Linked DNA regions of Homo sapiens: regions 2 and 3 are each linked to region 1. Evidence: fine-mapped expression QTL. Tissue or cell type: whole blood. Region 1 holds a variant in brackets; each other region holds the start of a gene. All regions are shown on one strand. Distances are from middle to middle.

Region 1 (2,683 bases):
GGATGTTTCCAATTGTCAAATGTGTTTTTGGCTTCTGGGGACTGGCTGAAATCTGCATCATACCTTGGCCAGGCTACACATAGGTTGCTGTCACTCTCCTGTCACAACTGCCATCTGCTATCCAGAGGACAGCTGCTTGGGAAATGAGGGCCCCATTAACATTCCAGTGCCTCTGGCTCTAGACCTGATAAAACCAGAGCATTGTACTGTGAATGTGGACAATTCCCTCTCCATTCCTGTTATTGCTGCTGAGCTGGTCGTAAGGAAACCGAGTGAGAAGGGAATGCAACAGAAGAAAAAGACCAAAGACCTGGGTTTCAGGGCTGGGAAAGAAAGCAAGACAGAATGGAGGAAATGAGGCCTGCAGGACATGGCGTCTCAAATGTTTGCGTCGCCTTTAAAGTAGCCTGTCACAGCTGCCTTCCACGACTCTTCAATGCCCTCATCCCTTCTCCAGATAGAAATGGAGCAGCTCTTCTTGGAGGCCAGGCTTCAGCTGATAGCAAGTCTGAGGTAGAGTACAGCACAGATCAAAGATTGCTTTTTACCTTTAAATGTAAAGTGTAAAGGGACAGGATTAGAGCATCCGCCTCTGTCTTTTTGAACACAAAGACCATTATCGGTAGGGGAAGGGAGACTTGGAGAGTTTATATGATTGACAAAAGTCACCCAAGTTGTTTGTGAGCCAGGACTGGAACAGAGCTTTTTGGGCGTCTAGCCAGTGTTCTTCCCCAGTGCATTACATAGAATGAATTTGTTGTACTACAACACTAATGTTCTGTAACGTTTCCCTGAAGACCGTGTTACAATAGTGATCTTCATTTATATATGTATTTTTCGTTTTATATATTTAGGTTGATTGTGTCTATATTTAGACCTCATAATTTAAATTGCTTACAATGACTCATTCATTTGCCCAATGTTTGTTGAATACTTGCTGTGTGCCAGGTTCTATCATAGGTTCTAGGAATACAAAGATGTGTAAAACATGATTCTTGCTCTTAAATATAATAACTCTCAGCCCGGTGGAGGAAATAAACACATTTAAAATCAAGAATAGTGCAAATACAAAGAAAGCTAGACCAAGTTTATGATGCAATCAAAGAGGCAGGCACCCAACTGAGGTTAGGAGGGTGAGAAATGGTAGCAGCCCAGGAGAAAGGTTTTCTGAGGATGTAACACCTACACTATGTCTTAAATGAGTAGCTATCAAGGCCAGGTGGGACAATATATAAGCATTTCATCCCTCAGATTCTAAGAGATGACAGTCATTATGTTATGGGACTCTGTACTCACATTTACAGTTGTCATTAACCTAGCAAGATCTTGCAATGCACTTTGGGGATCTTGCAAATAATATCTGTTGCTTGATTTGCAATGAGCTCTGAGATTCCACTTCCTATAGGGTCTAATAGTAGTCTTAGCAGAAACCAGAAGTCTGGAAAAAGGTGAAGGAAATAATTTCAGTGAAGAACTTATA[T/A]CTCTACTAAAAACAAACCTGCCCAAGAATTCTTCCATATCTGCCTCCCCTTGTCCAGGTCTTCCTCATCCCTTCAGACTGAGTACAAATTCCACTTCTAGGAAGCCTTTCCTGATTTCTCCAATCAGAAGTGGTCTCTCTGTTTTCTGAAGGCACAGAGGTATTAGTGCCTCTTGTATGATATCTAGTGTGTCCTACCTTAATTGCAGTTTCAGAAATGTACCTCACTCTCATACCTCAAAGATGTGAGGGATGGAGGGAGGAGCTGGAGCTTCAGGGGATATCACCCCCAGGGGTATCAGGAAGACATGGTAGAAAGTTGAATCAGCCCAAAGCAGAGGAGTCAATATCCACAGACATTTCCTCTCTAGTCTCTCTTCTCACTCCATTCAACCTCCCACCAGACAACCTGTCCATCCCAACCTACATTCACTTACCCGAAGCTGATTTGCTAGATTATTCTTCCAGGTTGTTGTATAGTGTTTCCTGGGCTTGCAACACCCTCACCATCCTTGTTCACTCCACAAACACCTACCCAAGCATTGCCTGTTTTTTTTTACCCTTCTCAGACCCTTCCCTCTCTGCCCCACCCCCAGTTAAGCTCAATGACCCCTTTCAGCTTCACTGGAGCCTCGATATATTTCTGTTGTAGCACCTTCAACACCATCATACTTCTTGATGTATAGGCTACTGGATGGTGAGCAGCTTGAGGTCACAAACTATGTCTTATTTATTTAAATGTCTCCAGTACCTAATGAATGGGTAAATGAATGAATTTGTATTCTTCTTTTGTCTTCCTTAGAAACTTCCTTCCAGAAACTTTGCTTTATTCGTCGGTATGACCCCCGTCACAGCACCCTTTACTTGGTAGCCTCACAATAGATGTTTACTGTTGAATGAATGAATCTAGTTATTCACACACATACTTTGACATACCAACCCACAACATTGTAATACTGAGTTGATTCTTTTTAGAATGCCCTATAAAAATGAAGTGTATTTTAAATGTTTCTCAAAAGAATCCAACTTTGTTAACAGTTTTTAGCCCTCAAACCCCCCATGATGCATCACCTAAGTGCCATATGTCTCTCACAGGATGAAGCTACTTGCAGAACAATCTGGCAAAGGTCATCCTAGGAGCACACCTCAGGAACTCCTCACTTTCTGTTCCTCCTCTTTCTGTTCCCCACACTTCCCAGGGCA
Region 2 (2,683 bases), 79 kb after region 1:
TTTGGGACTATAATTAACATCCAATTCAACTTAGAAGGTTCATAAGGAAATTCCGCGGCTCAAAATTAGGCGTTAGGTGGGCATTTTACTGAGGGTTTTTTCCCTACGGCCACATGAACAATAAGTAACCCGTCCTTTAAACATTTTTCACACTAAACATTATGCCATGTTCCAAGGCACAGACCATTGCAGCCTCCGTCCCCTCAGCGGCGTAAACACTTGGAATGGGCATGCTGCCCCGTTACTTAGTATTGAGAAGTGGTCACTTTTTGCTCTTCTTAGGTGAGTGTAAGCGACTGCCTTCCCCACTTTAGGTGAACCCCAGGACTTGGAGCGTCTGTGGGTGCTCCTCTAATGGGGACAACTCCTCCCTTCCGACTCCATCGCAGAGAACCCAAAGTTCGAAACCAACAGAACGAAAAGCAACGAAGCACACTTAAAGTGAGGAACCCGGCAAGCGGCGAAATTCTTGCTGAAGAGAAGAAAAAGCGAAAGGTTTTCCGCTGCAACCAATCAGATGAGAGGATTCTTGGCACGCCCCTTTCTATCTACCAATCAACATCTAGCTCAATGGGGCAGTCCATTGCCACAGGGAAAGGGCTTGGTGCAGCTTCCCTCACAACACACACGTCATTCTAGGCCATTCCACGAACTGTGCTCAAAAGAGGAAAACAGTGCAACAGTTCCAAAGCTGATCAGTCTCGTGGTGAGCAGCGAAACTATAGACTTCTCTAACAAAACCATGGATTCTAGGAGGGACTGGGAAAGAGAAAAACGAATTCTGGAAGGCAAACTACAACTCCCAAAGGCCCTTGCGCGGACTCAGCGCGCGAGGGACGAAGGGCGGTCCACTGTAAGGGGAAATGCTGAGGATCACTGGGCTCCTCCCGGCTTTCTGAACGCAAGCCAGCAAGTGGGCGGGACCTGGGGCGGGCGGAGCGGCGAGAGCATCTGCTCCTGCGCTTTGTGGTCTCCTGCCTCCGGCTTCTCCGCCTGCGACGTCGAAGGGGGCGTGGCCTGCGCAGAGGCTGGTGGGGGTGCGGGCGCCGCGGGACTTGGGTGACGCGTCCCTTTCCAGCTCAGCGGTGTGTGAGGTGTCGCGGCCCCGCCGGCGATTGGCTGTTGAGAGGCGAGTACGCGGCGGCCGTTGGTCGCTGGCCTCACGGAGCAAGGCCCCCGGCGGGCGGGGAGGATATGGGGCGGCAGTGGCGGCTGCAGGAGGCGGGCGTGGACGAGCCGGTGGCTGCAGCGGCGGCGGTCCCCGGAGTCCTGTGAAGCGCCCCTGTCCGCGCCTCTGTGGGGCCCTCAGAGAGGGCTGCCAGGACGCGAGCCACTGAGGAGCCGCTCAGCCAGCGCCATAGCCCTTAGGACTATCGGTCACATTCTCGCGCTCCTGCTCCGGCTCCTCCATCTTGGCCTCGGCAGTGGCGGCTGCCGGGAGGATGTGCCGCCTTCTGGCAGGGGGAAGAAGGAGGAGAAGATGAAGAAGCACCGGCGGGCCTTGGCCCTGGTCTCCTGCCTCTTTCTGTGCTCTCTGGTCTGGTGAGTAGCCGCGACGACAAGGGAGTTCCCGTGAGGGGAGTAAATGGGAGGGAGCAGCCCAGGTCACACCCCCTGGTCATTTTGGCTTTTAGGGTCCGGGTTTCCAAGGCCCCCGTGGAAGGGACAAACCGATTACTTCTCGACTCTCCATCTGACTGGTCTGGTAGTGCTCTGTGCGGAGATTTTCATGGTGTATTTTGGAATTTACAGAGACTCAGTGGGAGAGAGAGAGGTGCCAAGGTAGAGGGAACCACCAAGTGCCTTTGTACTCAGTTCCTCTACCCCTTGGAGACGGTGCAGGGTTTGGGGTGGGTGTTCAGATTGATGGTAAGTAAGTTGCTCCGATTTGCCGCCAGTCTTTGCGTTCTTAGTGTGGTAAGGGGATAAAGCACGTCGGATGTGATGCGTTCCGGACGTGCGATTTTAAAACGTGAGTGGTCATGAAGGTAAGAGTAATGTATAAGCAGTAGTTCTCCTGGACATTTCTCGCACAGCGTTTGATCCCAAGTACACTCGGGCCGCTGTTTTTGGAAACTTGGGGGGCGTGTGTGTATGTGTGTTATGAAGCACTTTTTCAATTGGTTTGGTGGAGAGGGTGTCTTAGATGTAGTGTGTGTAGTAGTTTTTGGTAATGCCCCTTAGTGACGGGAAGGTAAATGCTGTATTTTCAAGGCGGGAAGAGTGCTTTGTCCCTAAAGCACTCCTTAAGTTTTACGGAGTTTCTGTTAATCCCAGGCACTTCTGGAGTTTTTTGAGGAGCAGAGAAAGCTTGTAAGTCGAGGGACTGCTGTCACCGTACTTGGAAAAGCCATTCTTTCCTCCCAGGGAATTTCTTCAAAGATGTGTGACAATTGATGACTGAAAAGATGCTTCTTCAGTCTAGGCGATTTGCTGTTTGTTATATTAAAATAGAAATTAAGTTTCCTGTTTTGCTTATTTCTGCAAAGCACCAACACTATTTTCATTTTTATGGATGCCTTATGGATTCCAGAAGCACTGAAATTGTAGAGTTGTTGCTCACATAAAATAATACATAAACAAGGGGAAGAGAAAACACTCGCCTGGCTGAGGGATTTTTATTGGAAGAATGATAGAAGTTTTTGAGAACAAAAACAATTGACTTATTACCTTTCATTCTGAA
Region 3 (2,683 bases), 610 kb before region 1:
TTCTTAGAAAAGGTTTCCTGGGCAGACATTCTAATAGAGATCCACTTCAGTGGAGATGCATTCAGTTTTATTTGTCTTTTTCTGCTGCTTTAAAAAAAAGTTGAGATGTAATGTACAGTAAAATGCACATCACTTAAAAGTTTAGTTTGAGGAGTTTTGACAAATGTATGCCCACATCCCAGTCAAGACATGGGACATTTCCATCACTCCAGAAAGTTTCCTCATGCCTCCTACAGTCAATCTCCACTCCTCAAAGACAACCACAGTTCCGATTTCTATTACCATAGAATAGCTTTGCTGGTTGTAGAACTTCACATACATGAAATCAAACCAATATGGTCTTTGGCCTTTTTCATTCTACATAATGTATCTGAGATTGTTGCTATATCAAAAGTCTTTTTTGTGGCAGAGATTATTTCACTATATATATATACCACGTTTGTTTATTCATTCACCTGTTGATAGACATTTGGGTTGTTTTCAGGTTTTTTGACATTATGAACATTTTAATATGTCTTTTTAGAGTTAGAAGGAACTGTACATTAAATGCTGAGATTACAAAAGATGACTTCAGTTTTGAATAAATTGAGTCTGTAGTACTTGTAGGACACTCAGGTAGTATTCTGGGCTCCTCTTGGAGTACAGTCTAAGTTGCAGAAGAGAGACAGGGTCTAGCAATGTAAATTTCTGTAGTCGCCAGCCTTGATTCAGAGTTAAAGCTATGGGAAAGTCCTCAGGCAGAGGACAAACATTAGACAAGAAAATGCCCATATATGAAACCCTGCGAAGCATCAGTATTTGAGGAGCAGACTAAAAAGGAACCGTCTGTGGAGGCTAAGAGAAGCATGGCCATTTATCTTTGTGTCCCGATCATCAGGCACAGGACCCCACACACAGTCACTTCTCAATGTGCTAAATTTCACAGAATGCGTCCAGGGTACCTGGTTCTGGATAGATCCGGTAGAAGGAGATAGACCGGGAGGGCAAATGGCATGAGGAGTCTCACAGGCCAGAGTGATTAAAGGGGTGTATCGGGGCGGTAAACCCTACAGACTCTACCTGTGCTTATGCGGGGCTGGGGAGGACGAGTCATTACAGATGAAGAATTAAGTAAGGTCAGACCACTCAGGGCCTTAGATGGATGTCACATTGAAGAATTTAGACTCCAACAGGCCTGCCACCCTGGGAGGAGTCATCGCGGATTCTGGAGAAGGGCGTGACAGAGGAGATTTCCTTTCGGGAAGTGTAGTCTGGCAGCGGTGCCCCGGTGGTGGCGGCGGCGGTGCTGCTGTTGCTGGTGATCGTGTGGTGGTGTTAGCGGCGATAGTGCTTTCCACTGGGCTTTGGCTTGGTAGCCGCTGAAAGAGAACAACGCTGCCGCTGCTGCTGATTTCATGCCATTTCCTGACCCGGCGCTGTAACTTGGCCTCTGAGCCTTGGCCACAGAACGCAGAGGCCGTGGCATCTGGCCGCAGCTGGGCTGCAGTGCGTGCGCGCCTGGCCTGGTGGTCCGATGGGAAGCCCGGGGCGGGGCAGCCGCGGGGCGGGGGCGGGGCGTCGCGGAGATAGGCCACGCCCCTGCCCGCCCGCGCAGGCGCGCTGCGGGTCGTTAGCTGTCAGAGCCAAGCGGCGGGCTGGCGGCGGGCTCCGACGTCTGCGCCAGGACCTGGCTGGCTGAGCCCGGCGCAGCAGCAGCAGCCAGGGCAGCGCGGCCCCTACTCCCTGTCAGGTCGTAGAGGCGAGCAGGGACCAGCTGGTCGCCGGCCCCTCGGGCAAGATGGGGAACCGGGAGATGGAGGAGCTGATCCCGCTGGTGAACCGTCTGCAGGACGCGTTTTCGGCGCTGGGACAGAGCTGCCTGCTGGAGCTGCCGCAGATCGCCGTGGTGGGCGGCCAGAGCGCCGGCAAGAGCTCGGTGCTCGAGAACTTCGTGGGCAGGTAAGCGCGCAGGGCGCGGAGTAAGGATGCGGCAGTGGGGCGACCCCGCTGCGGGCCGTTGGAACGTGGACGGGCAGCGGGAGCCAGAGGGTGGATGGACCAGGCGCTGCGGTGGAATGGGGGGCAGAGTGGAATGGGGGGCAGAGTGGCGGTGTCCGTGGGGCGGGCGGGGTCCTCCAGCTCTGGGCATCCTCCGTCCCCTGCCACCCCCCGCCTGGTGGCCCTCCTGCCTGCCTTTCATCGTGCGATACAAAGCCATTTCCTCCCTGTCCTCCAGTCGGGGAGTCGGGGGAGGGGTCCGCCCCGGGCTCGACCCCCACCCCCTCGGTGCGCGCCAGCCCCGGGCAGCCTCCCTGCGTAGCGCGCCGAAAGCTTCCCAGTGCCCCTCTCCTGTTTTCCCAGCTCAACACCCCCCTCCTTTTCCTGTCGCCCTCCGTGAGGCTCCCTGTGAGGCTGTGGGGCTTTATCCCCCGAGCCCCCTCCCTTAGGTGGAGATGCTTTCCTTCTCGCCAGGGTTCTCGTTCCTCTCAGCTGTCTACTGTTGCCTGCCTCTAGCTGGGGAGGCGGGGTGCGAGGAGAAAGACGTCGTTTGTTGTGGTGAAGCTTTATCCAGAGACGCTTCCCCACCATTCTCCTCCCGGAGAGTCGAAGAATAAAAGGTGGTGTGTTTGCGTGTGCACCTATTCACAGCTTCAGGCAATTGTGAGAGAGCCCGAGGCACAGACTTGGCAGGGGGTGGACGTGG

The links. PIP is the estimated chance that this variant, and not a neighbour inherited with it, causes the effect.
Region 2: SUCO starts here. The variant in region 1 is fine-mapped to the expression of SUCO in whole blood (INTERVAL, PIP above 0.99).
Region 3: it holds the start of DNM3, and the variant in region 1 is fine-mapped to the expression of DNM3 in whole blood (INTERVAL, PIP 0.99).

Annotation. Positions count from the first base shown.
Region 1 is chr1:172,452,677-172,455,359 of GRCh38, forward strand. The region is part of intron 3 of C1orf105 (chromosome 1 open reading frame 105); the gene reads left to right. Among named protein-coding and RNA genes, the nearest start is that of PIGC, 9.9 kb to the left of the region's middle. The variant T/A (reference allele first, on the strand shown) is at 1,481.
Region 2 is chr1:172,531,956-172,534,638 of GRCh38, forward strand. SUCO (SUN domain containing ossification factor) reads left to right here and starts at 1,195. Exons shown (of 24, transcript NM_014283.5): 1 at 1,195-1,542. The coding sequence starts at 1,481. RefSeq lists enhancers at 394-503, 564-813, 1,424-1,583 and a silencer at 1,134-1,303.
Region 3 is chr1:171,839,880-171,842,562 of GRCh38, forward strand. It overlaps DNM3 (dynamin 3), which reads left to right and starts at 1,619. Exons shown (of 21, transcript NM_015569.5): 1 at 1,619-1,938. The coding sequence starts at 1,778. RefSeq lists a silencer at 1,434-1,663 and an enhancer at 1,864-2,043.